2 linked regions of the Homo sapiens genome follow. The protein of the gene in region 2 interacts with the protein of the main gene of each other region in a biochemical or structural test. Each region holds a gene or a part of one and is shown on either strand. Other genes may lie near its edges. The genes, in order: ACR and ZP2.

Region 1 (16,316 bases), on a different chromosome or scaffold from region 2:
CTAAGTATTTACCCGAGAGACATGAAAGCACATGCCCATGCAAAAACCCATGTGTAGTGTCCAGAATTAGATCACTGATGATTCTTTACCAAGAATAGAGTTTCTGGAGTAAACTCCATTAAGCTAACTTCTGTTTCTTGGTCAGTTTTCTACATATTAAAGATGAACCGTTTTCATTTTTTCACATTTCCATTGTAAATTTGCTAAGATTGGATTCACCAGAACATTTTCCCTTGCAAATATTGTAAGATTTCCTATATTGATGAGAGGCACAGCGAGGACCTCTGCCTCTGTGAGTGTCAATATTGTGCATGATCCTTGCCGCGCCCACTGTTCTGGCATCAGAGTCTTGCCCTGTACAGTTTAGCCACTGTCAAACCATTTTCTTTTATTGTTCCGATCAGTAAGCTTCATTATGAATTCAGTTTTTACAAATATTTTTCATTTGCTTAGCCGTCCCATGAGAAAACAGTGAGCACATCCCTCAGATATCTAAGTGTGCACACCCCTCGGTTGTCTAGGTGGGCACACCCCTCGGATGTCTAGGTGGGCACACCCCTCGGTTGTCCAGGTGGGCACACCCCTCGGTTGTCTAGGTGGGCACACCCCTCAGATTGTCTAGGTGGGCACACCCCTCGGATGTCTAGGTGGGCACACCCCTCGGATGTCTAGGTGGGCACACCCCTCGGTTGTCTAGGTGGGCACACCCCTCGGTTGTCTAGGTGGGCACACTCCTCGGATGTCTAGGTGGGCACACCCCTCGGGATGTCTAGGTGGGCACACCCCTCAGATAGTCTAGGTGGGCACACCCCTCGGATGTCTAGGTGGGCACACCCCTCGGATGTCTAGGTGGGCACACTCCTCGGTTGTCTAGGTGGGCACACCCCTCGGATGTCTAGGTGAGCACACCCCTCAGATTGTCTAGGTGGGCACACCCCTCGGATGTCTAGGTGGGCACACTCCTCGGATGTCTAGGTGGGCACACCCCTCGGATGTCTAGGTGGGCACACCCCTCAGATTGTCTAGGTGGGCACACCCCTCGGATGTCTAGGTGGGCACACTCCTCGGATGTCTAGGTGGGCACACCCCTCGGATGTCTAGGTGGGCACACCCCTGGGTTGTCTAGGTGGGCACACCCCTCGGATGTCTAGGTGGGCACACCCCTCGGTTGTCCAGGTGGGCACACCCCTCAGTTGTCTAGGTGGGCACACCCCTCGGATGTCTAAGTGGGCACACCCCTCGGATGTCTAGGTGGGCACACCCCTTAGATGTCTAGGTCCCTGGAGTTTTGGTTTGTCACACAGCTGGTCATTCTTCCATTTCTCCTGTCACTATGAGCAGGAGACACCTGCTTCACGATCTGAAAGTTTAACCTTTTCAGGGTTAAACTATCCATAGGAACATGAAGGCAGATCAAAGAGCGTCAATTTTAAAAATGAAAATTGGAACATCTATTACATTGGTAAAGATAGACACATTTCGTAAGAACAGTGTCGGCTTAGATGTAGGGAAATGGGCACTCTCATGCATGGAAGGCTAAACATTCCTTCCTAGGAAAGAACTGTGCCACTTTGTCTTCTAAGTATCCCTATTGTGGAAGATCAATTTAGAGACATAAGATGGGCCTGTACACACTAACATAGAAATACCTCTATATTTGCTAAATGGAAAAGCAAGTCATAGAGTAGTGTGAATGGTGAAGGATCAGGAGATTATGTGACATGTCACCATATTAATGTGCATGTGAAGTTTCCAGGAATCACGGCTTGAATTCTCCACCCAGTCTATGGCCTCTCATAGGGTGTTCCTTGAGAGTAGGCCCTGTCTCTCCAAGGAGGCCCAGATGTCAGCTATAGATGATAGGCCCAGGGTAAGATTTTCTCCATCACTGGGGAGAGAAGAAACTAAGGACAAGGAGCATTTATGGGGAGAGAGAACCAAGAAAATCAACTCTGGATCACAGAAAGCTCAGAAGAGAAGCAGTGAAGTCTCTGGGGTAGAAAAAAGCTGCTGCTGCTGTAGCTCCACCCCAACTTGTCCAAAACCCCTTTGTGACCGCAGCACAACTTGCCCCATACTTCCATGTGCTGGCCCACCTGGCTCTGTGTCTGGCTCAGGGTCATTGAGGGTGAATCCCAAGCTGCCGTTGTTACGGCTTCTGCACGGGGCCTTGCATTTTGTATGCTTAGTATTTAGACAATGTCAAGTGTCTGGCACCAGAGTACAAAGGGAGATTAAGAAACTGGCTTTAGGAGAGAGAGCCTAAAAGTCAATAAAATGAATTACCAACTCCAACTTCAGCAGCACCAGCTCTTAAGCCAAGGCAGATAGAATGTTTTAAGTGTGATCAACTGTTACTATCCTACAGAGCCATGGGCCATTCGACTCAATACGCAAGCCCTCCTATGTGGCCAAAGCATTTCAGGGGTCATAAGAGGAAAACGGCAGGCACCGAAGTGCCCCTGCAGATAAGCGTAAGATTATGCACCAGCAGTCACCACCAGCTGGCCCATGAATGACAGCCCACGTTCGTGGGCATTTCTGGTGTGTCAAGACCTGCTTTAATACTCCGCATCTGTCCTTATTTCATGGTCACACAGCCCTCTGGCACATCTTCCCCAGAGCACGGAGCTTATGCGGGGTAGAGCAGGGTATTTGCTTGAACCCAGGTAGACCAATAAATTTTGAAGATGAAGATTCACAGCTGCTCCATCAGTCCAGGTTCCAGCTCCAGCAGGAAAATGACTGGTCCTTTGAGCTTTCTCAGCCAGGGTTCCTCCCACCTGCCATGGCACCTTCTCTCTGCCACCTGTCTTGGTAACCGGGGCATAGGACCACCTTGCGCTTGACTCACACAGGCAGCTAGGTGGACACACGTATGAGTGAAAGCTTGTTGCAATGACTGCTCAGCCAAATGCCAAGGTTTTCTCTCTTTCTGAGACCTGCCATCTTCAGTCTCACAAGGGGTTAAACCAGCAGTCAAGTTTTGCATTTTTACTCCCTGATCAGAGTGGGCGGTTGGCCTGAACCTATCAGGATTTCCTTCTTTTTTTTTTTTTTTTTTTTTTGAGATGGAGTCTCACTCTATCACCCAGGCTGGAGTGCAGTGGCGTGATCTCGCCTTACTGCAACCTCTGCCTCCCGGGTTCAAGTGATTCTCCTGCCTCGGCCTCCCGAGTAGCTGGGATTACAGGCACCGCCACCTCACCTGGCTAATTTTTCTGTGTTTTTAGTAGAGATGGAGTTTCACCATATTGGTCAGGCTGGAGGATTTCTTCCCCAGGATTTTGCAAATAGATGTGAACAGTTCCAGGTGACAGCTGCCCCCAGCATGGGGCAGTGTGGGGCAGGTACTCTATGCAGACCAGGGTCATGCCTTGCCTGGGTTCCTCACCATTCTTGGTGTCTGCTTCTGGCCTTTCCTATTGGTTCTGTGTGACATCTTTGCATCCTTATCACTTAAATGGCTCTAACTGGTTTCTGTTCCTTGCAATGGAAGGTCTTAAAATAAATAACCCCAAATCCTAAGGAAGCCACTCAAAGCTCACTCGGGGGCATCCAAAAAGTATTCCCCATTGCAATTCCTAGAAAGCTCTAGCAAAGAATACATTTTTTAATTTGCTCAAATCCAGGAACTAATAAGATTTAACTACAGGCAAGTAATGAACAGGCTTGTTGGTGTCAACTGGACACTAACAAGCCACAAGCAAAATTGTGTTTGGTAGTAGACACTTGTTTTGGTGGCCTAGTGGCCTCCTTAGCCTTTGTGTTCTGGGGAGTTCAACCTTCATGCAGAATCTTCTCTGTGGGTGTCAACACCACCAGCCTCCTGATAGAAGACTTGGACCCACACCCCCTCTTTCCCCGTCAGCTCACTCACAGCTGCTGCTTTGGGGGTCCACCCCCTTTGACTTGCACATGCAGAGATGGCTCTTTTATTTTCACCATTTGTCGTTTCTCCCTAAGTGTGAAATAAAGACCATCCCCGGTCTACGGCCCCAGGTCACCTTATTCCAGCATTAAAAATCAAGATTTTAAAAAACACGATTGGCACTAATGTACAAGCAATTCCGCCTTATTGTAGGGTGAAGGAGAGAGGGTAGATTTTATAGGGGAAATTTGGGTTGGGAGGGGGGATAGGAAGAAGTCCAGAAAGCATCTCTTGATGTATATGCATGTATACATACAGATATGTGTGTGTGTATATCTATATATATATGTTTATTTATTTATTTCATCTTTCCTTTTTCTCAGGAGTGAAGGGCTCACTGGGTCTGTTGAGAACCAGGTCAGATCAGGAGGTCGAGGTCAGTTCTGGGAGCTCTGTGGTCTCCATGTCATAATGGTTCTTTCCGTCGGAATAGGTCTTCCCCTTCAAGACCTCTATGAGCTGCTGTAGGCGCTTGGCAAAAGAAAGTCCTTGGGGAAGTTTTGTGGTAGATGAGGGTGTAGGTGGGGGTGGGGGTGGGGGTGGGGGTAAAGGTGAGGCTGGAGGTGGGGGTGGGGGCGGGGGTGAAGGTGGGGGTCGGGGCTGGGCTGCCGGTGGTCGGGGTGGAAGTGGTCGAGGGGGCGGTTGGAAATACCAAGGAAGGTGAGCAGAGATAGGGTGGGAGAAGGGGGGTCGAATCGGGGGCGGTCGAGTGGTGGGAGGTGGAGGGGTGGCCGATTGAATCATACGCAAAGCGTTAGAACCAATCTTGGAGGCGATCCAGTTCAGATAGGGCCAGGTGGCCGTGTAGATTCCGGGGCGCTTGGCACGGGCACAGCCTACCCCCCAGCTTGTGATTCCCACGACCACATAGGCGCTTTCCTTGCTGTCTTTGCACATGAGAGGCCCGCCGCTGTCTCCCTGTCCAGAAGGACACAGAGGTCACTATCTGCCTGAGCCACTCTTCCCCTGCCCAGAGGGGTCGGAAGGCTCTGGGAGGACAATTTCCACAGTGACATGGTCTCCTGCTGCTGTAAACACAAGTGGTTGTAGTAAAGTTTGAGGGGGTGTCAGGGGCTTCATTTGGGATGTGAGGAGGGTGTGAATTGTCAGGGCTTTCCTTGCAGTGAGATGAGCAAACCCACGTGTCCACAGGGGCACATGGCAGGGGCAGCCGGTGGCTGTCACCGCTCATCCCCACTGTGAGAGTAGGTGCTAGAAAAGGGACCGGGGAAGCAGTCACTAGAGAAGGGCCCTGGGCAGAGCAGTGGAGATAGTGGAGCTTGGGGATCCAAAAGGAGGATGTTCTCAGGGGCCGGGAGAGTCCTGGAGGGACCCAGGGGCCCAGAAGCCAGAAGGAAGGTTACCTGGCAGGTGTCGATCTTGCCTACAGGATACCCCGCGCACACATTGGTTGGCTGAACGCGCCCATTGTACCACTGGGTCGAGTTACACAAGTCCAGGTCGATGAGATCCACACGTGCCTCCATCAGTATAGATGATGGCCTGGGGGCTATAGTCAGACCACTCGGTGGTCAGTGATCACGGGAGACACGGACAAAAGCCCTGCCTCCTTGCCCCACCGAACCCCATCCTCTGTGATGCTCCAGTTAAACCTCAGACCCATCCAGTCGATGCCCCGACCCCTCCTTATACACCAGAAAGAGCAGACTAGAGGTGGTGGGAGGAGGTGGGGAAATGTTATCCAAATCAAGGCCAGAGGAGAGAGGAAGAGAGGAAGGAAGGGTGGAGGCCCGTGGACAGGTGGATGGGGGGTGGGTGTGCGTATTAACGATGGATTATGGAGGTTAGTTGCAGTATTACCAATAACACCTAGTGTGCACCAAGCACTCCCTGAGTCACATGGTCCCGTTATTCCCATTTTGGATCAGAAGGCTGGAGCACCGCCCACCCAGGTCACAGTAGAGAGGTGGTGGGGCTGCAGCCTGGCCTCAGGACTGCTCCTCTCCAGACTCCAGTCTGAGACACACTGTCCACTCCCACAGTCTGGCTGTAAGCCACTCCCCCTGCTTCTTGTCCCTCTTCAGAACTCCTCGGCTCAGCTGCGGACGGGATCTGCTGCAGCTGGGTCAATAAGTCCCTCCCCATATGCTGCATATCTGTTCCGAGGAGACCGCAGGGGAAGCTCGGGGCAGCGCCTCCACACACGGGCAGACCTGGCAGGGGCAGGGGCGGTTGAAACAACCCCGATGCGGACTTCCTTGAAAGCCCTGGACTTGGCTGGGCGCGGTGGCTCACGCCTGTCATCCCAGCACTTTGGGAGGCCGAGGCGGGCGGATCACGAGGTCAGGAGTTCGAGACCATCCTGGCTAACACGGTGAAACCCCGTCTCTACTAAAAATACAAAAAATTAGCCAGGCATGGTGGCGGGCGCCTGTAGTCCCAGCTACTCGGGAGGCTGAGGCAGGAGAATGGCGTGAACCCGGGAGGCGGAGCTTGCAGTGAGCCGAGATGGCGCCACTGCACTCCAGCCCGGGCCACAGAGCGAGACTCCGTCTCAAACAAAAAAAGAAAGAAAGCGCTGGACTCTCTACCGTGACCTTTGGGTTAGAAAGACCCGATGCTACGGCGCATGCGCCAGCGTTGCTCCTTTTCAAGGGGTCCCACAGACAGAAGGGTCCCCAACAGCAGCAGCCACTCTGGCCCCCACCGCAGCAGCACCTACAACCCTGGGGGTGGATCTGGACGTCACCTGCAGAGCAGATGGGAGCAGACTGAGGTAGGGGCAGACCCAGAACATAGCTGCACAGGCCAGGACGGGAGACAGGGGACACACGAGTGACGTGCATAGGGCTCGGCACACAGCAGGCGTCTGGTAAGCGGCTGCTGAACGAGTGCTCGCTGGCTTTCCGTTTTTTAATCCCCTTAGCCCCCACCTTTTCTTACCATCCAAGCAGCAGTGAGAGTTTTGTACATGCACTGCCCTTGGGGTAGGGGTGACATTGAAACAACAATGACAACAATCCTGGCTTATTAGCCATTAAGACGATTTTTTTTTTTTTTTTTTTTGAGACGGAGTCTTGCTCTGTCGCCCAGGCTGGAGTGCGGTGGCGCCATCTCGGCTCACTGCAAGCTCCGCCTCCTGGGTTCACGCCATTCTCCTGCCTCAGCCTCCCGAGTAGCTGGGACTACAGGCGCCCGCCACCATGCCCGGCTAATTTTCTGTATTTTTAGTAGAAATGAGGTTTCACCGTGTTAGCCAGGATGGTCTCGATCTCACGACCTTGTGATCCACCCTCCTTGGCCTCCCAAAGTGCTGGGATTACAGGAGTGAGCCACCGCGCCCGGCCAAGATGACTTTTTAAGTCTAGGGCAGAGCCCATAGTCTTGAAAGCCATGGGTTTTATTGTGAAGAGCCAGGTGTCCTCAAACAGAAAAGGGTTTTCTAAATCCCAACACCTTGGCGGGTTTTTTTTGAGATGAAGTTTCGCTCTTGTTACCCAGGCTGGAGTGCAGTGGCGTGATCTTGGCTCACTGCAACCTTCACCTCCCGGGTTCAAGTGATTCTCCTGCCTCAGCCTCCCGAGTAGCTGGGACAACAGGCATCCACCACCACACCCTGCTAATGTTTTATATTTTTAGTAGAGATTGGGTTTCACCATGTTGGCCAGGCTGGTCTCAAACTCCTGACCTCAGGTGATCCACCTGCCTCGGCCTCCCAAAGTGCTGGGTAAATTACAGGAATGAGCAACTGCACCCAGCCGACACCTGGGCTTTAAATAACAAATGCTTAAAAGTCTGCAGGGACTCAAAACCCAATGGGAAAGAAGCAATACCCAAGCAATACCCTTCCAGCCCCAAAGCAGATGAGTTGAAGGAGGTGGTAAGACATGGAAGGTTTGAAGGGATCACAGGAGTTGGAGCCTGGGGGTTTCTTTAAGACTTGGGCTTATGGGTACAGGATGTGTTTGCAAAAATGAAAAACAAAAAAACCCCAAACAGAAACAGAGTGATCCTATTAGGTTTATGGGAATTCCAGAACAAAAAAGGTTTTGCATGGCATCCAAGATATAGCTAGGACACTACAATCTGTCTGAGTAATAGAATAGGACAGCAACGGTTGGCAGTGGGGACCCTAAGATCAGCCTCCCAGGAACATAGGGACCCCCAAGAGCTGTGGACATCATCAGACAGGGGACAGAGCATGGCAGGCTAGGGGGCTGGACAGAGGCCAGGGCAGAGCCATGGGTATCGGCAGCTGGAATAGAGGCTGTCACTCCAGGCCAGAAGGGGATGGCCACGTGTCAAGTGAGGCCAGTGAGAACAAGGACAGCTGGGATGAGACTCCCTTCCCTGAGGGACAGGAGAGGTGACAAACCTGTCAGAAACTTAGACCACGCCCTCAGAGAAGGAAATAAGAGTTAAAGGAAGAATCCTCAAATTATTGACTTTTTGTTGTTGTTACCCAAAAAAGGCTGCGTTTTAGACTCATATGACTGAATTGCCTTGAATTAAGAAGCCTCATTATCCATTATCAAGAAAAAAAGAGATTGAGATGCACCACTTATGGAAAGCTGGAAGTATAGGTCACATGCAGAGATCAAGTCCTACTGGGTCTTGTCCTGCTGGCAAAACCTTGCTGCTCACTGCTGCCATTTAATGGGGTCACCTGTTGCTTCTGGGATAAATGGTATCTCTAGTGTGCCTAAGTATGTAGGGAGAGGTGTCTGGGCGTCTCTGACCACGGAGTCAGTAATGACAATTTGTTCTAGGTCACACCTGGGGCCCTCCGTGAGCCTGGTCTGGTACGGAAGAAATTCCCCCTACTCTTCTAGAACTCATCTGGTGTCGAGTGTATCAGGTAGTGTTGGATGGGCAAGAGATCTTCTGGGAGCCAGGGGAGAGAGAGACAGCTTGGTTATGGACAGAGCTCTAGAGCGACAGCTACACCCGTCTTGAATGGAGAGGTACCTGCCGGACACTCCAGGAAGCCTGAAATACAGGGATGCCTATGACCCACAGAAAGCCACACCAACCACCGGTCCCCTTCCCAGTCTACAGAGCAAATGTCAAGTAACTCAGATGGAGAGGGTAGATTTGGTGCTATGACTGCACCGGAGGTGGCTGCTGATGGTGACAAAGACAGCCTGGAAGCAGGAAGGCTGGGCCCTGGAATCACAGGTGTTAGGAAATGGTCAGCTTGGAGACCATCTGATCCAGCCCCTCCATTTACAGATGAGGAAACCAAGGCCCAGAGAGTGGAAGGCACTGTCATACGGCCACATAACCTTATCTGGAGCTCTTCTCCAAAGGCTGTTTCAGGGTTGCTGCTTGTTTCCAGGATCCAGCAGCTTGGGCCCCAGGTGCCAAATACAGACACAGCCTCAACCCCATTCTAAGCAACGCTGCGCTCTGCCTGCACCTGCTGTCAGCCCCCCCGTAGACAGCCAGACGAGTCACCCATCACGTGACCTGGCACAGGGGACTGTGGAAGGCCACAGTGATGGCTCTACGTGTAGCGCCGTGAGGAGGATGAAAGCAGCCTGGCTGGGTGTCAACAAGTGACCGCTGCACCTCAAAGACCACCAGGAGAATGGCCAGCAGCGTCCCCCCTTGGAGGCGCTCCCATACTCACCTTTCTCTTCTATATATCCCCAGCCGGCCACCCAGCAGCTCTGGGAGCCTCTGGGGAGGCCTGCCTTAAAGTGGGGCAGGCAGCCCGGCCCAATGAAGCGCCCACACGAAATGGGAGGGGTGATCTCCACGAGGGCAATGTCATTTCCCTCTGTCGCAGAGTTGTATTTTTCATGAATGATGATTTTCTCCACATATCTCTCTTGCAGAGGCGCCTTTACTGGTTTATTGTTCCCATATGTAATTTCCTTTGCTCCGAAAACCAGTCTCCAGTCATGCACATTACTGTGGGCACAAAGGTAAGCCAGGTCACAACCGGCTGGACAAAAGCCTGGTGACAGCGACCCTCAGGGCCTTCCCCTAGCAAAGGTCTGGACCAGCCCCCGGAGTCTTGCAGCCACTTGGCCCAGAGCCCCAGGGAGACGCTGCACAGCATCCCCGGGGAACGCCCCTCTCTGAGAAGAGCCGTTCTGAAGACCTCCCTCAGTGCATCCCTACACGTACTTTTTGCCGACGAAGCAGTGAGCAGCAGTGAGCACCCATCGTGAATTCAGCAAGCTGCCTCCACATGTGTGGTACCTGTGGCTGTTGTACGTGAAGATCTGGAGGCTGACCATCCAGGGCCAGGCCCCATGCTGTGCAGCCTTCCCGCCGACGATGCGGACACCACCCTGTGGGTTTTGCCTGAACCGTAACCCACAGGGGCCACTGGGGAGAGACCAGAGCACAGTTCAAACCTGGCATGAGCACAGCCTGTCCTTGTAACTCCACAACTGAGGGGAGGCAGGGACATGGGGTTGGGAAAAGTGGGGAAGAGCTTCCGGGTTCTGGGAAAGCAGGGGCAGCCTGCGCTATGTAGGAAGCCGCAGGCTCTAGGAAATGGTTCTGGGGCCACGACTTCTCAGGTCTTGTGGGTGCAGTCACAGATGGAGAAAGAGGAGGCCATAGGAAGCCAGGACAGGCTGCATGGGCCCTGAGGGATGGCCCGTCCCTGGGCAGAACAGGAGGGTAGAGGTGGGGATGCGGGGCCTGGGGACAGAGGGGTGTAATGGCCTGAGGTCCTTATAACCAATCTTGGGTGGGAGACTCAGGGAAGTCAGGTGATGAAGGGGGTCGTTGACAGTGATGGGAGGAGGGATAGCAGCCAGGGGCAGATACTGTGGCCCACAGGTGTAGGGGGCACACTGAGAGCAGTGGAGGTCTAGAGGTGGAGGCTCTGGGAACTGTGTCACGGGTGGGAGGCCACATATAGCTTGGGAGGTGTTGGTATTTCGGGGTACCTTGGAGTGAGAGAGCCTACTGGGGGGTAGGGGTGCAAGCGGTGTGAAGCGATGATATCCTGGGGCTGTTGGGGGCAACCACGGGTTGGGACAGCTGTCTGTGGGGGGATAAGGGCTCCCAAAATCAGGACTTCATGTCTTCAAGACAGTGGGGTCAGTCCCTGGGGGAGTGGGAGAGGCACAAGGAGCCTGAGGTGCTGAGGGGTCCATCTCTGGAGGAAACCACGAAAGCTGAGGGTCTGGGGGCTCCAGGCTGCTGATTCTGGGAGCAGGGGGGGTCCAGGTTAGGGATGCAGCCTCCTTTTCCCTAGCCCTGGACAGAGGGAGTCGGGGTGGTACCTGCTCCTCAGAAGATCCTTCCCCCACCAAGGTGCCCCGACACTTACTCACACGTGGCGTTATCTTTAGCAACCACGGACACTGCCAAGACCAGCAGAATGGCAGTTGGTAGCATCTCAACCATACTCCTGGCACTGCCTGGCCTGCAAGCCTAGTGACCTCACAAAGCTCCGTGGCTGCCTGGCCAATCAGCAGGGGTGACCCCCACCCCACCCCCAGCAGTCAGGCCAGGTAAGAGCCCCTCGCCTTAACTGGTTTGTGCTGAAGAGACTTCTTGACTTCCTGCATAGGCTCCCCCACCACCAGGATGATGGGGGACTCCTGTGCAGCCCCACTCCCTCTGTCCCAAGGCCAGGATCTCCATTCCCAGTAACTCTTGCGAGGTCCCCACATCACCCAAGGCTCTGGCTTTGTGCAGGTTCAGAGTCTGCCTCTCATGCGTGCTGTGACCACTGCAGACTCACAGACTGAGGAGCGGCTCAGCCCTTCAGTGATGAGACGGTGCAACATGTTTGTGGATCAGAGGAGTCAGGGTCAGCAGATTAATTGATCCTTAATTGTTGTTGGGGAAGTTTTCTTTTCCTCTTCCAAGTGAATGCTATCAACACACTTTTCCAAGAGTCATTTTGAATTTTCCTAATTTACAACTGCAAAGCCCACCTTCCTGTCCGTTGCTGAATATCACAAGGTCTCCTATTATCCTGAATGTCTCCAGATCGGCTTTCTGTGACTGAGGTGGAGCAAGGTGTTTTCTCCTATACTTGAATGTCAAGAGTTTTCATACAGCTACCTGAATATCATGAAGCATCATTTTTCCCATCTGATCATCAGGAACTAGCATCTCACCTACCAGAGTGTGACAAATGCTTATTGCAAACACCTGAATGTTAAAACATTTCCCATCGCCTGCAAGTGTCAGGAGGTCACACTCTTACCTGCATGAGGGCAGCCTTACCTCTTCTACCTGAATGTAAGATCTCAACCAGCCCGAGGGTCAATAGGTTGCACATCATCTAAGTGGGTGTCAGAAGGTCCCATGCCTCCAACCTGAGTGTCAGGACATCTCATCTCCTATTCCTGAGTGTTGAGTTTTCAGATTATCAGATGATCTTGATTTATCTATTTTCTCTAACTGAATGTCGTACTTATGACATCCTCAAATGAATGTTCAATAGGTCTCGTATATCTTACCCAGTATCAGGGAGTGATCACCTCCTTCTTTGAAAGAAATAACAACTCTGTTTTTCCACTTCAGTGCCAGAGGCCCTCATCGCCTCCACCTACAGGTTAAGAATTCTCACCTCCACCACCCAAGTGTCACCCTGTCGCACTTTCTCTACCTGAAAATCAAGAGGTCTTACATCTTCCAGCTGAATGTCAAGAGGTTGTATTTTACCTATATGAATGTTCTGAAGTCTCCACCGGTATACCAGAGTGTTGGGAGATCTCATTGCCCCCATCTGGGTGCCAGGGCATGTCCTACCCTCTACTTGAATATAGTCTCATATCCCTGTCTAAATGGCATGGAGCTTTCATCTCCTCTGCTAGAGTATCATGAGATCTCCTCTATTCTGGGTGTCCAAAGTTCTCATCTCAACCCCCTGAGGTCTGGAGGTATTCTCACCTCTTCCTGGTTGTCTGGAGGTCTCATCTCCCTTACCTGAGAGTCATGAAACCTCCTATCTCCTATATGCCCTATCTAAGTCATGACACTTTATCTCCTCCGAGTGTCAGGGGATTTTTCTACCTTTATGTCAGGTAGCCCCACTTCCTCTAGCTGAAGGGCATACAAGTTCTATTTCGTGACTTGAATGTGAATAGGTTTCAGCTGCACTACTGAGTGTTAGCGGACCTCACTTATTTTAACTGAGCATCAAGTTGTGTCTCATAAATAACCAGAAAAAGACTTTGGAAATATGGTTCAAGAAATGGCAAGAAGAATTGAAGAAGTGGGCCCAAGTGCAGAGGCTCATGCCTGTAATCCCAGCACTTTGAGAGGGTGAGGCAGGCAGATCACTTGAGCTCAGGAGCCCCAGACCAGCCTGGGCAACACGGCAAAACCCCGTCTGTACAAAAAATACAAAAATTAGCCAGGTGCAGTGGCACCTGCATCCCAGCTACTCAGAAAGCTGAGGCAGGAGAATCATTTGAACCCAGAAGGCAGAAGTTGCAGTGAGCCGAGATCGCACCATTGCACTCAAGCTTGGGCAATGGGAGTGAAACCCTGTCTCAAAAAAAAAAAAGAAGAAGATTAAAGTTTTGACTGTTAAAGAAAATATTATTCGGGTGTTTTTAATGGATAGCACCTATTTCTTTACAAATATTTAGGAGGTATCAATAAAAAAGTCTGAAGACCCAATGTCAGTGTCTGGATTCTAGAAGACCATTACAGTTTGACTCCGCAAAGCTTACCCACTTCTGATTCTAGAAGGGGCTGCCAGTCATCGTGCCTGCCCGTGGCTATAGTGATGGTTGCGGGAAAAGTACCTGGCCCGGCCCATTTAATTTTGTCATTAAACTAATGGAAGCAACAAACATCTCAACTCAGAGTGACTTTGTCTGACCTTCTTCATGCTGTTCTAAGAGCGAAGGAGAAATGGGTGACAGGTCTGGGGCCAGAGGGTGGGGTCCCATCCGAGGGCATGGCTCAGGCTGAGGCAGAGTGCTCAGCACAGGGGGCAGGATGGGGGCTCCCCATCTCCCCTCAAACTCCTCCCTGCTCTCTGCTTCCACCCTGACCCCCAGGCACCCCTCCAGCTCATCCCAGCCATTCTCGCTGCTCCTGCTCACCCCAACCACCCGCTGCCTTCGCCAGCCGTGCCCACTTCTGTCCCCATGCCTTATTTACCTGGGCAATCCAACTCCCACCCCAGTTTTTCTCACCCTGATCTCCAATCCCTTCCAGCCCCCAATCCCCTACTTTTCCATTCCTGTCCCCACCACCCTCCGTGAGGAGCAGAAACCTTATCCAACCATCCTCAATGTCCAGCCAGCCAGGAAGGCAAGAAGATCCCAGAGGGAGTAAGAATGGTTGACGCAGTGAAACCTTGAGGGCCGAAAAGGGGTAGGTTTCAGGTCTTCACCCAGGGGAAGCAGGTGCCTCGGGGGTGGTTTAAGCAAGCAGGTGAGGGTCTGGGTGGCGCCATGGAGAAGGACGAAGGCCCTTTGAGGCTATGGTTGATGACAGCTTGAAAACCAGCCTCAGGCTGGGCAAGGTGGCCCACACCTGTCATCGAAGCACTTTGAAAGGCTAAGGAGGGTGGAGTTCTAGACCAGCCTGGGCAGCAAAATGAGGCCCCCATCTCATAAAAAATAAAAAAAAAATTAGTCAGGTGTGATGGCCCACGCTTGCAGTCCCAGCTACTTGGGAGGCTGAGGCAGGAGGATCGCTCAATTCCAGGAGGTTGAGGCTACAGTGAGCCACGATCATGCCCCTGCACTCCAGCCTGGGTGACAGGGTGAGACCTTGTCTCAAAACAAAACAAAAGCAGCCTCCATGTCCTGGCCCTGCCCCAAAGTTGTCCACAGGTCTTGGGAGTGGCTGGGGGGTGCCAGCCCACAGGAAGAGCAGAGGCCACACAATTTCAAATTTTCAACATTTCCTAATCCTCATCTTATTTTCAGATTAGAAACTGAGGCCATCATAAGGAAAGGGCTGCACGGGAAGTCAAGGAGGGGGGCCCTGCAAGGGTCTGAGTGTGGGAGCAGGGGGCCCCTGACTCGCTCTGGGCCTGAGTGTGTGGAATCGGGAGGGTGGGTCTCCCTGGGCTGCACATGGAGCCCTAGGCCTCCATGGGGACTCAGAGTCTGGGGCTAGTGGCACTTCTCCACGGTGCCACCGGCCCCACCCCTGGCTAAGGTTAACCACAGAGCCAAGGTATGCGATTGTCATTCTGTCATATTCACGCGCCTCCTCAACCCAGTGTGTCCAGGCTCTGAAACCACTGCCCCTCCTGTAAGCAACCCTCCCCACCGGGGACGTCACATCTCTGCAGCCCCTGGCCTCAGTGCTGGGTCCTGTGCCCTCTACTTTCTCACGGCTCCCTCTTGATTGCCTTTGCCCACTTGCCTTACTGTTTGCCCTTCAAGACATAGCTCACCACCTCCTTCCACTCAGCGAGGGGTCTCTGTCCCTCCTGTTGGCTGGCCACCCCCACCAGGTGCCACCCAGGACGTGTCTTTTTTGCCACATTATCGGCTGCTCACATGACTGCCTGTGCGCTCCTGAAGGACAATGTCTTGTCTCTGGTGCTCAGGGTGGGAGCAAAAAGGAAACCTCACATCCAACTGGGCAGACAACCCAAGGTGAGAAGCACCAACTTGCTCTAATTTGAGATAGCACCAGGGCCGTGCAGACGCAGAGCCTAACATCTAACTGGGACTCCAGGGAGGGCGGGTCAGAGAAAACGTCCTGGAAGACAGGATCCGGAGATCAGCCTCCAAGCTATGTATGCTTGATGCAGGCAAACGATGGGTGATCCAGGCAGAAGGAAGAGGGCATGTGTGAGACAGAGCCCTGAAGCGTCATAGCGGCTCAGGGATTGCAGGAGGTGGGGGGAGACTGGCGAGCAGCATGTGTGCATGGGGAGGGAGCAGGGGATGCTGGCAGGGCCACGGCAGCACTGGCTGGGCCGGACTGGCTCACGGGGTCCATCCATCAGCTGCATTTACAGACAGGCTGGTGTTTGTCAGCAGAGGGCAGAAATGGAAACAGAAAACCAGTGAATCAGCAGGGAAGGAGTGAGGGCTAAATCTGGTCTGCAGCCGTGGGGTAGGACAGTTGCGAGAGATGCGAGCGGGTTCCAAGACAGGAGCAGCAGAATTTAAAAGCAACCGGACGCTGGCGGGAGCAAGTCTTAAACCCTAGGCTTAAAACCTGGCAGGGGTCATGGAGGACAAGTGGCCTCCAGCTTAGGAGGTGCTACTCAGTGGGTTGGTGAACAGAGAAAAGCTTTCGGTGCAGAAGGCATGGGCTGAGTTCCAGCAGACTCGGAGAAGATGCTGGAAGATGCCAGGTGCCTAGGCATGGAGGTCAAAGATAGGGATCTAGGAGTCACCCGTGCATGTGGTCCAGGCTGAGGAGGTTTGTGTGGCCGGTATGAGGGACAGACACAAATATCCCCTCAAGCAGGCAACTGAGCCATGGCTTCATTTCTTATAAATTTATTACATAA
Region 2 (16,214 bases):
CCTTGTTAAAGATCTAGACATCCAAATACAAGAAGCTCAAAGAACACCCAGGAAATTCACCGTAAAAAGATTATCATGTAGGCACATAATGATCAAATTCAAGATGAAGGAAAGAATCTTAAGAGCTGTGAGGCAAAAGCATCAGGTAACCTATAAAGGAAAAACTATCAGATTAACAGCAGATTTCTCAGCAGAAACCCTACAGGCTAGAAGGGATTGGGGTCCTGTCTTTAGCCTTCTTAAACAAAATAATTATCAGCCAAGAATTTGGTATCCAGTGAAACTATGCTTCATAAATGAAGGAAAAACACAGTTTTTTTTCAAACAAATGCTGAGAGAATTTGCCACTACCAAGCCAGCACTACAAGAACTGCTAAAAGTAGCTCAAAATCTTGAAACAAATCTTCAAAATATACCAAAATAGAACCTCCTTAAGGCATTGTCTCACAGGACTTATAAAACAAAAACACAATGAAAAAAAAAACACAAGGTATTCAGGCAAAAACTAACACAACGAATAGAATAGTACTTCACTTCTCAATACTAACACTGAATGTAAATGGACTAAATGCTCTACTTAAAAGATATAGAATGGCAGAATGAATAAGAATTCAGCAACCAAGTATCTGCTGTCTTCAAGAGACTCATCTAACATGTAAGGACTCACATAAACTTAAAGTAAAGGGGTGAAAAAGGACATTCCATGCAAACGGACATCAAAAGTGAGCAGGAATAGCTATTCTTGTATCAGTCAAAACAGACGTTAAAGCAACAACAGTTAAAAAAGACAAAAAGGCAAGGTGTGGTGGCTCATGCCTATAATCCCAGCACTTTGGGAGGCTGGAGGGGGCAGATCACTTGAGGTCAGGAGTTCGAGACCAGCCTGGCCAACATGGTGAAACCCCATCTCTACTAAAAGTACAAAAATTAGCTGGGCGTGGTGGCACATGCCTATAATCCCAGATACTCAGGAGGCTGAGACCGGAGAATCTCTTGAACCTGGAAGACGGAGGTTGCCATGAGCCGAGATCACGCCATTGCACTCCAGCCTGGGCGACAGAGCAAGACTCCATCTCAAAAAAAAAAAAGACTTCTGGGCCTTCTGTCTTCCATATATTGATGCCGCCCTACCTTTATATTTATAGATCGATAAAGCTTTCATCCTAGTTCTTTCTGAATTTATTACTGTCAGAAGGCTCATTCAACTTGGATCTGTCTAAAGGACCCAAGGGGAAAACAACATTAACATTGTATATTAGATTGGTAAAGGAACTACCATATGATGTTCGAGAACATTCTCATTGACATAGTCTATCTTATTTTTCCAAGTTAAATTCATATTTGATATTTGAAAGCTATTTTGAGCTGCATTAGCATAACTGGGAGAAGTTTTTATATTATTTATCTTATACTGCTAAAATTCTAATTAATGTCATCTTGTACTTTTAAAAGACAAGTGAACTGCAAGAGAAGCACAGAGTTTTAAAACACCCCCGCATGCACAGACACACACACACAGCGAGAGAGAGAAAATTGAAATGAATTAGAAAGGGCAGGGAGAGGCATCAGGAGACCTGGTTTCTCACTGGAGCTCTATCTGCTACTAACTTGGTAAATGACCTGGAGCAAGTCACTAAACCTCTTTAGATATTAAACCTCTTAATATCTTCATTTTACCATAGGGAGTTGGACTTTGTTTCAAAGCCTCAAGTTCCGGATCCATTCATTTCGCCTTTTTACCTTTATACTACTGAGTTTTCATCCTTGAGCCTTAGACTCTGTAACTTAGGTAGCTCACTCAGAAATCAGTCAAAATTATTATTAAAAAAAATTTTTTTTTGTCCAGGCACGGTGGCTCACACTTGTAATCCCAGCACTTTGGGAGGCCAAGGCGGATGGATCACCTGAGGTCAAGAGTTCAGGACCAGCCTGGCCAACATGATGAAACCCCATCTCTACTAAAAATACAAAAAGTAGCCAGGTGTGGTGGCACACGCCTGTAGTCCCAGCTGCTGGGGAGGCTGAGTCATAAGAATAGCTTGAACCTGGGAGGCAGAGGTTGCAGGGAGCACAGATGGTACCACTGGACTCCAGCATGGGTGACAGAGTGAGACTCTGTCTCAAAAAACTAAAACTAACTAACTAAATAAATTTTTAAGAGACAGGGTCCTGCCATGCTGTCGAAGGTGGTTTTGAATTCCTGGCCTCAAGTTATCTTCTAGCCTCAGCCTCCCAAAGTGCTGGGATTATAGGCGTGAGCCACCATGCCCAGTCTATAATTATTTAATTGGTTATTTTATCACTAAAACAATTCAACCAAAACAGAGGGAATAAAGTTGTTGGAACCTCACCAATGCACCTTAATGTAGACTTTCTCATTGTCTGAACTAGTACCCTGGGTTCTTTGTCCTACCTCCTAGAAAATTAAGGAACATGGACACAAAGGTGGGTTGGAGTGAAAGTTTAATGAGGGAAAGAGGCCAGGTGTGGTGGCTCACACCTCTAATCCCACCAGTTTGAGAGGCCGAGGTGGGTGGATCACCTGAGGTCAGGAATTTGAGACCAGTCTGGCCAATATGATGAAACCCCATCTCTACTAAAAATACAAAATTAGCCGAGTGTGGTGGGGCATGCCTGTAATCCCAGTTACTTGGGAGGCTGAGGCAGGAGAATCTCTTGAATCCAGGAGGCAGAGTTTGCAGTGACCCGAGATCACACCATTGCACTCCAGCCTGGGCAACAAGAGCGAAACTCCGTCTCAAAAAAGAATAGTAATAAGTGAAAGAAAAAAATTCTCTGCAGCAGAGAGGGGAGTCCAAGTGGATTGCCAGGTTACAGCTGAATTCAAAAGCTTTTTTAAGAAACTCCTCTCTCATCTCTAGCAGTTTGAGTAACTTCTCATCAGTAAAGCTGTCTGTGCAACTCCCGGTATCTTACGCAACTGTGGGCATGTATCTAGGCAAGCACAAAGCCTGCGTCTCTTGTTTTGATAACTGCGGGTTTGTTTTAGGTAAGCCCCCCTCCTCCCTGTGTAAGTTCCCACCATGGATATGTCTGAAAAGGGGAGGAAACTTTTTCCTAGGAGCTCGCTAATTAGACAAAGTTGCTTATCTGTGTGCAGGTGCAGCCTGTTTATCCCAAATGATTTTTCCTTTTCTTCTCCCTCAAAGTCAGAAAGGCAGGAGTTACTTATTCTTTAAGGGCTGAAGGAAGAAAACTCCCACCTTTGCACTCTGAAAGTTCACTGAAAATAAACTGACCAAAGGCAGATGAATAAGAGAAAAATTCATACAAAATTATTAATGTGCAGGGGAAGGTGGGAATCACAGAGTAATTGCCCCTAAACCCTCAGTGGGGCACAGATGCATATATACGGTGGGTTTTCTTTTTTTTTTTTTTTTGAGATGGAGTCTTGCTCTGTTGCCCAGGCTGGAGTGTAGTGGTGCAATCTCGGCTCACTACAGCCTCTGCCCGCCGGGTTCAAGCGATTCTCCTGCCTCAGACTCCTGCGTAGCTGGGATTACAGGCACACACCACCATGCCTGGCTAATTTTTTATATTTTTAGTAGAGACAGGGTTTCGCCATGTTGGCCAGGCTGGTCTCAAACTCCTGACCTCAGGTGATCCACCTGCCTCGGCTTCCCAAAGTGCTGGGATTACAGGTGTGAGCCACCGTGCCTGGCTGTATATACAGTTTTTCATAGGGGAGGGAGGAGATGGGGACTGTAGACAATTCTCTTGAGGGGCAATAATGATTATCAGGGAGAATGAACAGACCAGGGAGAGAGAAATTAACTTGTACATAATTATCTTTGGAATTTGACTGAGCTTCAGAGGCTGACATTATCTTGTGGAAAAGTCTGTCCATGTGTGGTTACATTCCTTAGTCTCCTTTCCTGCTATAGATAATGAGATTTCAGGGAGGGGATAGAAGGCAATAGTGTTTCTTCTGTTAAGAAGCTGCCTTGGCTGGGCCCAGTGGCTCATGCCTGTAATCTCAGCACTTTGGGAGGCCAAGGCAGGTGGATCATTTGAGGTCAGGAGTTTGAGACCAGCCTGACCGTCATGGTGAAACCCTGTCTCTACTAAAAATACAAGAAAAAAAAAATAATTAGCCATGGTTGCTGGCGTGCACCTGTAATCCCAGCTACTTGAGAGGCTGAGGCAGGAGAATCACTTGAACCTGGGAGGTGGAGGTTGCAGTGAGCCCAGATCATGCCATTGCACTCCAGCCTGCGCAACAAGACCAAAGCCCTGCCAAAAAAAAAAAAAAAAAAAAGAAGGAGCTTTCTTTTTTTTTTCCCCAGAGAGAGTTCCTTCCTGTACTTTGGGGGTGGAAAGGGAACAAGGCAAGGATAGAGAGACCTTGATTCTGAGGCTTATTTCTGAAGCCTTTTAATTTTCCAAAGCACTTGGCATGCCCAGGCACATTTGGGGAATTGTTTTCTGTGCTCCAACCCTCCCATCTCCTTAATCCTATTCCCGGTGATGATATTCAATGTATTTAAAACCCATACAGCAAAAGCACGAACAAGTCAGAATAGACAATGGTCGCAAATGCCCAGCACAGCCACGTGGACTCCCCGGACCCTGGCAACCCTCTCCTTTCCTGGATGATGCTGTCGATTCTCTGGGACAACTTTCTTGACTTGTAATCCAAATACATATGTATAGACCCACATGCAGACACATAAAGTATAAATATACACATAAGTTTGAGAAAGAAAAGAAACTTTTTATCTGAAGAATGCAAGTCCCTTTAAATTATCAGGCCCAGAGAGGCATTGAAACGTGACAGCAGTCACACCTCACTCCCTCGGGCTCAGTAATTATCTCTTGGAGCTACTTGATATGTGGGCTCTAGACTGACACCAAGTAGCCATAAAATTAACCTAACTATGCCATACACTGGACATCATAACTCATACCATATGCTGGACGCCATTAATCATACCCTATAGTTCAACAATGTATAGCCAATCACTAATCAGTGTTTTTTTTTTTTTTTTGAGATGGGATCTTGCTATGCTGCCCAGACTGCCTTAAAAGTCCTGGGCTCAAGCTATCCTCCCACCTCAGCCTCCTGAGTCACTGTGACTACAGGTGTGAGCCACTGTACCCAGCTAATCAGTGTTATTTCTGTAAATCAATGAGTCAAGAAACACTGTATCAGCCACTAATCCCAGCACTTTGGGAGGCCAAGGTGGGCGGATCACGAGGTTAGGAGACCATTCTGGCTAACATGGTGAAACCCCGTCTCTACTAAAAATACAAAAAATTAGCCAGGAATGGTGGTGGGCGCCTGTAATCCCAGCACTTTGGGAGGCTGAGGCAGGTGGATCATGAGTTCAGGAGATCAAGACCATCCTGGCTAACACGGTGAAACCCCATCTCTACTAAAAATACAAAAAATTAGCTGGGCGTGGTGGTGGGCGCCTGTAGTCCCAGCTACTCGGGAGGCTGAGGCAGGAGAATAGCGTGAACCTGGGAGGCGGAGCTTGCAGTGAGCTGAGATCGTGCGACTGCACTCCAGTCTGGGCGACAGAGCAAGACTCTGTCTAAAAAAAACAAAAAACAAAACAAAAAAAACACCCACTTGTGACAAAAGTGGAGAACTCACCAAGGCAACTTGGAAGTGTTTCCTGGGCAGCTGTCCACACTTTGCCTCAAGTAAACTCTTTAAAACTATATTCTCTTCTCCTTCCTTTAGGTCGACAGGTTTTTCATTTTCCTATTAAAGCAAAACATGAAAGCATAGTAGATATATAGCCCTGAAATTCCAGTTTTATTGCAGACATCTTTCATGTCAGTACTCACAGATCTGAACGAACTCATAGAATCATTTGCAGTAGCTGAAGAGTATTCCATAGTTTATCCAACCATCTCTAGATGGTGATATTTAGGTTGTCTTTTATAAATACTTTTATAATTGTTGTGGAAAACAAGGGCAGCAGATTCAGAATTTAAGAATTATAAACTGTCATTTATAAGAACCACACTTCAGAAAGGAAGACATCTGCCCAAATGAGGCAACAACAAAACTATAGTCTTTCTTTTATGTATGAGAACCCCGTCAAGAAATGCCTTGTGATTAGCAAGAGAGAAATGGTTTCATGATACATAGAACCCAGGGCAGAGAAGAGGAGAAGGAACACCTTGTAATAATAAATCAGCAAACTTTAAGAGGTTCATTGAAAAGAGTGTGGAACACATATATTTGAACGAGGTCTGCTGTTTGTTTACTGCCTTTTTTTTTTTTTTTTTTTTGAGACAGAGTTTCACTCTTGTTGCCCAGGCTGGAGTGCAGTGGCACAATCTTGGCTCACTGCAACCTCTGCCTCCTGGGTTCAAGCGATTCTCCTGCCTCAGCCTCCCGAGTAGCAGGATTTACAGGTGTGTGCCGCCATGCCCAGCTAATATTTTTGGTAGAGACAGGGTTTCACCATGTTGGCTAGGCTGGTCTCAAACTCCTGACCTCTGGTGATCCACCCGCCTCAGCCTCCCAAAGTGCTGGGATTACAGGCGTGAGCCACTGCACCGGGCCTATTTAGCGCAATATTTTTTTAAATTTAATTTTAATTTCCAGGATACATGTACAGGACATGCAGCTTTGTTACATAGGTAAACGTGTGCCATGGTGGTTTGCTGCACCTATCAACCCATCACCTAGGTATTGAGCCCCGCATGCATTAGCTATTTATCTTGATGCTCTCCCTGCCCCCACCCCCCAACCCCTGTCACCAGGACCCAGTGTGTGATGTTCCCCTCCCTGTGTCCATGTGTTCTCATTGTTCAGCTCCCACTTATAAGTGAGAACAGAATGTTAAGAATCATTTTTGTAATAACTTTAGTTTTTCCTACCTCCTGATAGGAGACACTGTTTTACGGAGCAGCTATTTCTTCCTGTGTTCAAAGTCAGTTGCTGAACAGATGGTAGCTTCCTGCTTTTCCGGAGCAGAATCCTAGACATGGATGCTCCTGGGCCCAGAGCCATTTGTTCGGTGGCTGTCCCCAGCACACCACAGGTCTGGGTTAGGTGAGACAAACAAAATTAATCTCTGGTGCACATACCAGCTTCACCAGCCCACAGCGGGCTTTCTCACCACATCTCCTGCTTGGGGTCTCTGTGCTGCCCCTTAACCTTTTAGAAACCCCAAATTTGGGGGCTCTGACCAAAGCTGCCCTTTCCAAGGCAAAAACTTCCCGCTCTGGAGAAAGACACCATCTCGAGGGGAGTGAGTAGCGCGGTGGGAAGGGAGGTGGGGTCTGAGGGAGGCTGAATAAGCACATTAACCCATCACTTCTCTGACCACCTTCTCAATAGGGCTCTGAGTCTCACGTCTATGCTCCTTTTTCCTCTAATGTCTTATCATAGTCTTAACCATTGTGGCAATAAATTATATTTGTAGAAAAGGTGCCACTTTTCAGAAAAATATGCATAGAAGGAGAAACTATTGCTATCATGCTTTGGCTATAAAATGAAATCCTTTTACCATCTCTATCCCCAAAAACTTATCTGTATTTTGCTCCTTCTTCCCAATTCCGCTGGGATGTAATCTACTCAATTCCCGTAAGGAGGTTAACCACTGGCCACCACAGATTTTCTCGCCTCGCTCCCTCCAAGTATTTTCCAGGTTTTCCTGATTATAAGAATCACCTGTGGTGCTCGTTAAGTAAATATTTCCCAGGCACATCTTCTGGAGAGTCTAATTCAGCAGCTTTTGGGTGGGACCCTGGAATCTGTGATATTAATGAGAGCTCCATGTGATCCTTTTGATCAAGGAAGTCAGGGAAACAGTTAATCTCCAATGTTATTTCAGATGCCTCAGGTTACACCTCAAAGGCAACACATGAATCAATACAGTTTAGGATGATGCAAAAATAATTGCAGTTTTTGCCATTAAAATTAGTGGCAAAGGGCCGGGCACAGTGGCTCACGCCTGTAATCCCAGCACTTTGGGAGGCTGACACGGTTGGATCACTTGAGGCCAGGAGTTCGAGACCAGCCTGGCCAACATGGTGAAACCCTGTCTCTACCAAAAATACAAAAATTAGCTGGGCTTGGTGGTGGGCGCCTGTAATCCCAGCTACCCGGGAGGCTGAGGCAGGAGAATCGCTTGAATCCAGGAGGCAGAGGTTGCAGTGAGCCAAGATTGCGCCACTGCACTCCCACCTGGGCAACAGAGCAAGACTCCATCTCAAATACATACATACATACATAAAAGTAGCGGCAAAAACTGCAATCACTTTTGCACCAGCCTAATAATTGCAAGTGTCACCCACCACTTGAATGGAGTCTAAGCCTTATATCCACCTATTTTGGAACATGGGCTGCAGACATCTAGTTATCTCAAAGAGTGTGAGAGATGTTGAAAAAACACAACCATCAGGCCTCAGGAAATCTGAGTTCTCCACCTGGTCCCTGACATTGTTGGGGCAAGTTGCCTTGCCTCAGTTTCCCCACTGGGAAACTTCCAAGTGCTTTACAACAATATAACATTCTTATTAGATCACTACTCCCTTTTACCCAGAAGTTTTACTTTGAGGAATTTATCTTGAGGGTTACCCAAGGATATGTATCAGAATGCTCATCATGTTACTGCTTATAATGATGAAAAATTACAAGCCACCTTATGCTCATAATTAAGGAAATTATATAAACACAGATTTATCTCAAATTGAATATTATGCCACCCTAAAATGGTAACAGAGAGCTTTATGTTTAATAGTTATAAAGTGACAGTAGCAGATTACAAAACAGTATTTAAACTTTCCTCCCAGTGTTTTAAAAAAATTGTGTGTGGTGTTTGTAGAAACATGTCTAAAGTTACTCACCTAAATATTAGCAGTGGCACTATTATGAGTGACTTTTGCCTTTTCTCTGTATCCTTCTGAAATTGTATCTTTGCGGTAAGCTTAAGCTTTTACACTTGGGGGTCAACAAGGCTTCATTCATTTTTTTAAAGACACTTCCTGTGCATTATCAGGGTAACTTCTGCAGTAGCCAGAAGACTAGATGTTACTTAAAAGGTTTTAGGGTAGGTGCAATGGCTCACGCCTGTAATCCCAGCACTTTGGGAGGCCGAGGCACGTGGATCACCTAGGTCAGGAGTTCGAGACCACCCTGACCAACACGGTGAAACCCAATCTTTACTCAAAATACAAAAATTAGCCAGGTGTGGTGGCGTGCACCTGTAATCCCAGCTACTCAGGAGGCTGAGGCAGGAGAATTGCTTGAACCCAGGAGGCAGAGGTTGCAGTGAGCCGAGATTGCACCAGTGCACTCCAGCCTGGGTGACAGAGTGAAACTGAATCTCAAAAAAAAAAAAAAAATGTAGTGGTGTGAACAAGACTTGTTTTTTTCTCAATAAAGCCCATGATTCTCTTTGGCTCTACATTGCAGTTGTAAATAATTTGCCCAAAAGATCCTAATTTCCCCCATAGTTATAGGGAAAACACCAATTCACTCACCTGGAGCTGATTTCAGCAAACTCTGATTTCATGCCTGGCCCACAGGGCAGCTGGCAGAATACCCGGCGCAAGCTGTCAGGAATCAGAGGCCACTTCCTTCCCCAATCCTTCCGTTTCAGCTGGGAGAATGGGACAAGATTCAGGTGCCCCCAATGGGGAGAGGGTGTGGATGCGGCTGGCTTCCTGCTATAAAAACACAGAGCAGCCTACCCTCTACCTGGTTGATCTGGTAGTGTCTTCTGCTATGGCGTGCAGGCAGAGAGGAGGCTCTTGGAGTCCCTCAGGCTGGTTCAATGCAGGCTGGAGGTGAGTAATTCTGGAAGTGGAGGGAGGGGGTATGGTAGCTTTGTTTGTTAAAGTCCATTCTTCCTTGACTATCTCCCTGTCTCTTTCCAGCACCTACAGGTCGATTTCTCTCTTCTTCGCCCTTGTGACTTCAGGGAACTCCATAGATGTTTCTCAGTTGGTAAATCCTGCCTTTCCAGGTATGTCTCTTGGGTGACAGAAGTCTTCTTAGCAGAGAAAACAGGTTGCAGCTGGAAGGCCTAGCTGGCCAAGAAACACAGGCCTGGCTCAGACAACCTCCATTCACCCCCTTTATTACCTTGGTCAGGTTACTGGATCTTTCTTCTGCTAACCTGTAGACTCACTATACCTGCTAAATGAAAACTCAAACACTTGCACTGCCTTCCAATCCCTCACTGCCTCAAGCTTTATGGTATCCACAGAACAGCAAACCACCACACTAAGCCCTCATCTTTAGGAGCAGCAATCTTCAAACACAAACTCATGCTTAAGGAAAACATCGACATAACAAGCAAAACTGGAGCTGCTCACTTGACGTTCACCTGAGCCAGAGGCTGCAGAGTAGCAGATGATGGGCAAAACTTGATCTTTAAAAAAAAAAAAAAAAATGCAGCCAGGCGCCGGGGCTCACGCCTGTAATCCCAGAACTTTGGGAAGCCAAGGCGGGCAGATCACCTGAGCTCAGGAGTTTGAGACCAGCCTGGCCAATGTGGTGAAACCCCATCTCTACCAAAAATACAAAAACTAGCTGGGTGTGGTGGTGGGCACATGTAATCCCAGCTACTTGGGAGGCTGAGGCAGGAGAATCGCTTGAACCTGGGAGGCGGAGGTTGAGGTGGGTTGAGATCGTGCCACTGCACTCCAGCCTGGGTGACAGAGAGACTCCGTCTCAAAATAAATAAATAAATAAATAAAAGTCCTGGGACTTACCCAGGACTTTGTTTAACATCAATTTGCAAAACCTGTTGACAAAGCTTTTGTCAGTTTTTCGGGCCTGCCTCCATCTGCTCCACTGTCAAGGTGTTGACCTGGCTCCTACAGACCTGCTTGTCAACCCTAACCTGGGCTTCTTACTGGAACACTTCAAAAGCCCTGGGTACCTGATATTTTCCTTACAGTTCTTGGCATATTGTATTGTTGTCTTGGTCACTTGTTTGTGAGCTCTCCCAGGGTAGGGGACGATTCTTGCCTCCCTCATCTGGAATCCCTCCCATCTGAGAGGAGTCTATACACTTTTGTAGGAGTTGCATCACTCATGACTCAAAGCCCCCAAATGCTTCCTTTGCTCCTTAGGCACTGTCACTTGCGATGAAAGGGAAATAACAGTGGAGTTCCCAAGCAGTCCTGGCACCAAGAAATGGCATGCATCTGTGGTGGGTAGGTAACGTGTGTTATCTCCTCATAGTCCTGATTAGCAGACAGCCTTTGGCTTAGGTCAATCCTGTTTGGGGAGCAGAGTACCCAAACTCCTGCAGCAACGGCATCCAACTCCCATGATGCCATGGGGATACCTGATTTGCATGAAGCCACCCAGCATGGAAGACCTGTCTGTCTTCGAAAGTGTGTCTTATGCCAGCATCTCTGGGAAGCCTCTGGCTGCAAGTCATACCATCTCAAAGCTCAAGTTCTATCACTGAGTTGGGGCGGAAGTGAAGGGACTGAAGTACCTTAGAAATGGACTGGTGGTCTTGACTCTATAGCTTTGGACTGTCACTGAAATGTACTCAGCCATCCTGTCTAACCTGCTCTGGCCTTGGCAGATCCTCTTGGTCTCGACATGCCGAACTGCACTTACATCCTGGACCCAGAAAAGCTCACCCTGAGGGCTACCTATGATAACTGTACCAGGAGAGTGGTAAGTCATTGCTTTGAGCAGTTCTTGGGGAAGTACGTAGTAACCTAAGAGTTACTGGCAGTAAACTTGGCTAAGAACTTTCTCTTTGGAGTAAAGCAGTGGCTCTCAACCAAGGGGGTGGTGTCTCGTGTGTGGCTCTTCTTTTCTATTATAATCTGTCTAGGCCAGGTGTGATGGCTCACGCCTATAATCTCTGCACTTTAGGAGGCTGAGACGGGTGGATCACCTGAGGTCAGAAGTTTGAGACCAGCCTGGCCAACATGGTGAAACCCCATCCCTACTAAAAATACAAAAAACTAGCTGGGTGTGGTAGCACACACCTGTAATCCCAGCTACTTGTGAGGCTGAGGCAGGAGAATCGCTTAAACCCAGGGGACAGAGGTTTGCAGTGAGCTGAGATTGCTCCATTGCCCTCCAGCCTGGGCAACAAGAGCAAAACTGTCTGGAGGAGGGTGGGGGGAATCTGTCCAGGGGACATTTGACAACATCTAGAAACATCTTTGGTTATCACAACTGAAGGTAGAAGAGCTACTACTGGCATCTAATGGATACAAGCCAAAGATGCTGGCAGACAACCAACATTACCCAAGTCTCCTCCCCATAACACAGAATTACCAGGACTGAGATGTCAGTGTTGAGGATGAGAAACCCTGGCATTCAAGTACTTGAGCCCTTGAGCCCTGGCTCTACCACTAATCAGGTGTAATTTCCACCAAGTGAGCCCTTTCAAGCCTGTTTGCCCATTAGAAGATGAGAGTAATGGTGCCTGCTCCATGGGGGTAATGAAGACTAATGATGTTCTACAGATTAAGACCTGGTGCAGAACCTGGATACAACAAGTGATGAAACACGAGCTATTTTGATCTGTGAACCCCAACATGAGATGGAAGGCTATTTTGGTGCTAGCAAATAGAAATCTGACCTATAGAAACAGGTGTTAAAAGGCAAACAGCAGCTAAGCAGTAAGGGTTTTTCTATTGCCAAGCAACAGTATTGCCCAATCAGGAATATTAGGAGCAATAAAAGCAACCTGTCTAAGCAGAAGCTAGCAAGTTGTAATTTGGAAAGTTTGGGTTTGACTAGTTGGACATAGGCCTGGGGTGAGTTCTGGGAATCTGCATATCTAACAGTCTATACCATCTGATTACGATGCAGGTGGTCAGCAGTCTAAGCTTTGTACAGATACAGTCTTAGACCCTACTCTGTAAACAGGCTTGAACTGTAAGTCATCTGGTCCCCTAAAGCCCTCTGTGATCAATCAATGAAGTAATCATAGGTCCTTCATGAAAAACCTGATAATTTCCTTCTAAAACAGACCTTCTCAACATTAGAGGTCTTGGAGTCGCATTCCCTTAGACTAAGGGTCTGCAAGCCATAACCTGTGGATGGCCAAACGCAGTCCATGGTCTCTTTCTGAGGCAGGCTTGCTCTGTAGCCCAGGCTGGAAAGTAGTGGCTGCAATCATGGCTCACTGCAGCCTAGAACTGCTGGGCTCAAGGGATTCTCCCGTCTCAGCCTCCCAACTAGTTGGGGCTACAGGCATGCAACACTATGCCTGTCTAATCTTTGTCTTGTCAAAATGGGGATTTCACCATGTTGTCCAGGCTGGCCTCAAACTTCTGGCCTCAAGGGATCCTCCCACCTCAGCCTTCCAAAGCACTGGGATTATAGGCATGAACCACTGTGCCTAGTTCATGGGTTTTTTTTGTGTTTTTGTTTGTTTTTGTTTTGGTTTGGTTTTCAAACTAAGAATGGGTTTTATCTTCTTAATCTTCTTGAGACAGGGTCTTGCTGTTGTCCAGGCTGGCATGCAGTGGCATAATCTCGGCTCACTGCAACCTCTACCTCCCGGACTCAAGCAATCCCCTACCCTATGTCTCAGTACCACCTCAGCCTGCCCAGTAGCTGAGACCACAGGCATATACCACCACACCCAGCTAACTTTTGTGGTGTGTGTGTGTGTGTGTGTGTGTGTGTGTGTGTGTGTGTGTGTGTTTAATATATATATAGAGATGGAGTCTCTCACCATGTTGCACAGGCTGGTCTTGAACTCCTGAGCTCAAGCAGTCAGTCTGCCTCAGCCTCCCAAAGTGCTGGAGTTACAGGCAATGAGCCACCATGCCCAGCTGGCTTTTATCTTTTTAAAGTTCTTTTAAGGAAATATGCTATGGATTTCATGTGGCTCACATGAGTCTAAAACAGTTGCTAATGCATAATGGAAAAAGGTTGGCTGACCCCTGCTTTTAGACTGAGTTTCCTAAGGTCAGGGGTAATAGCAAGGGTAGCTCTACCCAGCACAATGGCAGCTACTTAGGTGCTTAACAAGTATTCAGATAACCTGGGTAGAAGCCCCATACCAACCCCATTCAGCCAGGACCATGGTACTGAGACATAGGGTACACATAAGAGAAATAGAAACTGAACTCCATTTCCTGATGCTAAAACTGGCCTATCAGCATGAGTCTTCACTAACAGATTACAATGGGCTAGCTAGTCTCCTGGTACGGGAATGAGGTACCTTCCAGCACTTGTGGTATTAGTAACTTTAAGGGTTTTCCCACTCAGATGGGTCAGATGGTATTCTAGAATCCCATGGGGGTACAGTACTTACTCTGTTCCCACTGTGCTATCTGTACACAGCATGGTGGACACCAGATGACCATCAGAGTCATGAACAACAGTGCTGCCTTAAGACACGGAGCTGTCATGTATCAGTTCTTCTGTCCAGCTATGCAAGTAGAAGAGACCCAGGGGCTTTCAGCATCTACAATCTGCCAGAAGGATTTCATGTCTGTGAGTGAAACGGGCTGACTGCTCGGGGTATATGGCTACTGCAGGGGGAATATGATGATGATCTAACCAGGGCGGGGCTTAGAAATCAGACCATGATTTAATCCTGTACTTGCTAATTTTCTGTGTGATGAGGTTTAACTTTACCCTGAGGCTTTGTTTCCAAGTCCAAAGTGATGGGACAATAATGCTTACCTCAGGGTGGCTCTAAGAATTTACTGAGGGTATATACATGGTACTTGGCACATCATGCATGGCAATAGGGTTTTATTGGTAGTTGCACTCACACTAATCATCTGACAAATGGAATACATGCCATGTTCCAGGCCCTACCCTAGATGCTAAGATACAATAAGTGAACAAAACGACCCAGTCACATCTTCATGGGTTTAGAGTCTAACATGGCTAATGTCAACAATGGACAACTAAAAATAACACTGACATAAAAGCAACTCAATAACAATGATAGAACTGCATGGCTTTTACATAGTACCTGATTTCTATGGACATTGGTGAAAGGGCAAACGTTTAAGAACATTGTCCTGGTCAGGCATGGTGGCTCATGCCTGTAATCCCAGCAATTTGGGAGGCTGAGGTAGGTGGATCACCTGAGGTCAGGAGTTTGAGACCAGCCTGACCAACATGGTGAAAACCCATCTCTACTAAATACAAAAAACTAGCCGGGTATGGTAGTACATTCCTGTAATCCCAGCTACTTGGGAGGCTGGGGCAGGAGAATCGCTTGAACCCAGGAGACGGAGGTTGCAGGGAGCCGAGATTGCACCATTGCACTCCAGCCTGGGCGATGAGCGAAACTCTATCTTGGGGGGAGAAATGTGTCCCAACTTACAACTGGAAAGGAGCTTAGATCTTCCAGCTGCCTCTTGGGATCAGAAGTTCAAAGAAGTATAATGACATCTAAGGGCACAGTCAGGGTTCATGTGCTTCTTCCACTGCATCCCACAGCAGGCCTTTTGGTATGACAACCACACAGCAATTTCTGGCATGAATTCGGAAACATCTACCTCCAAATCAAAGTCTTACATCACAATTCTTTTCTTCCAGTTTTCCTTGCCACGGGTCTTCTCTGGCTTGGCTGACGACAGTAAGGTATGAAGCAAATTTTAAAAATCAGACCTTAATAACCTTTAATTCTATGTTAAAGGTGATATTACCTTTAACCTGATAAATTGTTAGACTACCAGAGACTTGGTTAAGGGAGCACCAGCCCTCTAAACAAAGCTTTTTGACTTCAGGGGACCAAAGTTCAGATGGGATGGAGCATTGAGGTTGGTGATGGTGCAAGAGCCAAAACTCTGACCCTGCCAGAGGCCATGAAGGAAGGCTTCAGCCTCTTGATTGACAACCACAGGATGACCTTCCATGTGCCATTCAATGCCACTGGAGTGACTCACTATGTGGTAGGTGTGGAAGTCTGGCTTTGTACCACCAAAGCACAGGCCAGTATTCCTAAATTGAAGCATGATCTCAACCATGTCTTCACATTAATTTATAATACAACCCATTTTAATGCCTATTAAGTGCCAAACACTTCGCTGGGTATTCACACCTGTAATCCCAGCACTTTGGAAGGCTGAAGCGGGCAGATCGCTTGAGGTCAGGAGTTCAAGACCAGCCCGGCCAACCCTGTCTGTTTAGTGAAACCCTGTCTCTACTAAAAACACAAAAACTTAACTGGGTGAGATGGTACATGCCTATAATCCCAACTACTCAGGAGGCTGAGGTGGGAGAATCGCTTGAACCCAGGAGGTAGAAGTTGCAGTGAGCCGAG

The links.
Region 1: the proteins of ZP2 (region 2) and ACR form a complex in vitro, tested with the Homo sapiens proteins (one study listed by IntAct).

What each region holds. Positions count from the first base shown.
Region 1 is NC_000022.11:50,733,186-50,749,501, reverse strand, and holds ACR (acrosin precursor), read right to left. Parts: upstream 11,299-16,316; 5' UTR 11,267-11,298; coding exon 11,190-11,266; intron 10,232-11,189; coding exon 10,028-10,231; intron 9,809-10,027; coding exon 9,525-9,808; intron 5,442-9,524; coding exon 5,296-5,441; intron 4,850-5,295; coding exon 4,295-4,849; 3' UTR 4,163-4,294; downstream 1-4,162. UniProt on the Homo sapiens protein: Acrosin is the major protease of mammalian spermatozoa. It is a serine protease of trypsin-like cleavage specificity, it is synthesized in a zymogen form, proacrosin and stored in the acrosome.
Region 2 is NC_000016.10:21,205,049-21,221,262, reverse strand, and holds the start of ZP2 (zona pellucida sperm-binding protein 2 isoform 1 preproprotein), read left to right. Parts: upstream 1-9,688; 5' UTR 9,689-9,715; coding exon 9,716-9,777; intron 9,778-9,867; coding exon 9,868-9,956; intron 9,957-11,070; coding exon 11,071-11,154; intron 11,155-11,537; coding exon 11,538-11,632; intron 11,633-14,272; coding exon 14,273-14,425; intron 14,426-15,487; coding exon 15,488-15,532; intron 15,533-15,678; coding exon 15,679-15,843; intron 15,844-16,214. UniProt on the Homo sapiens protein: Component of the zona pellucida, an extracellular matrix surrounding oocytes which mediates sperm binding, induction of the acrosome reaction and prevents post-fertilization polyspermy.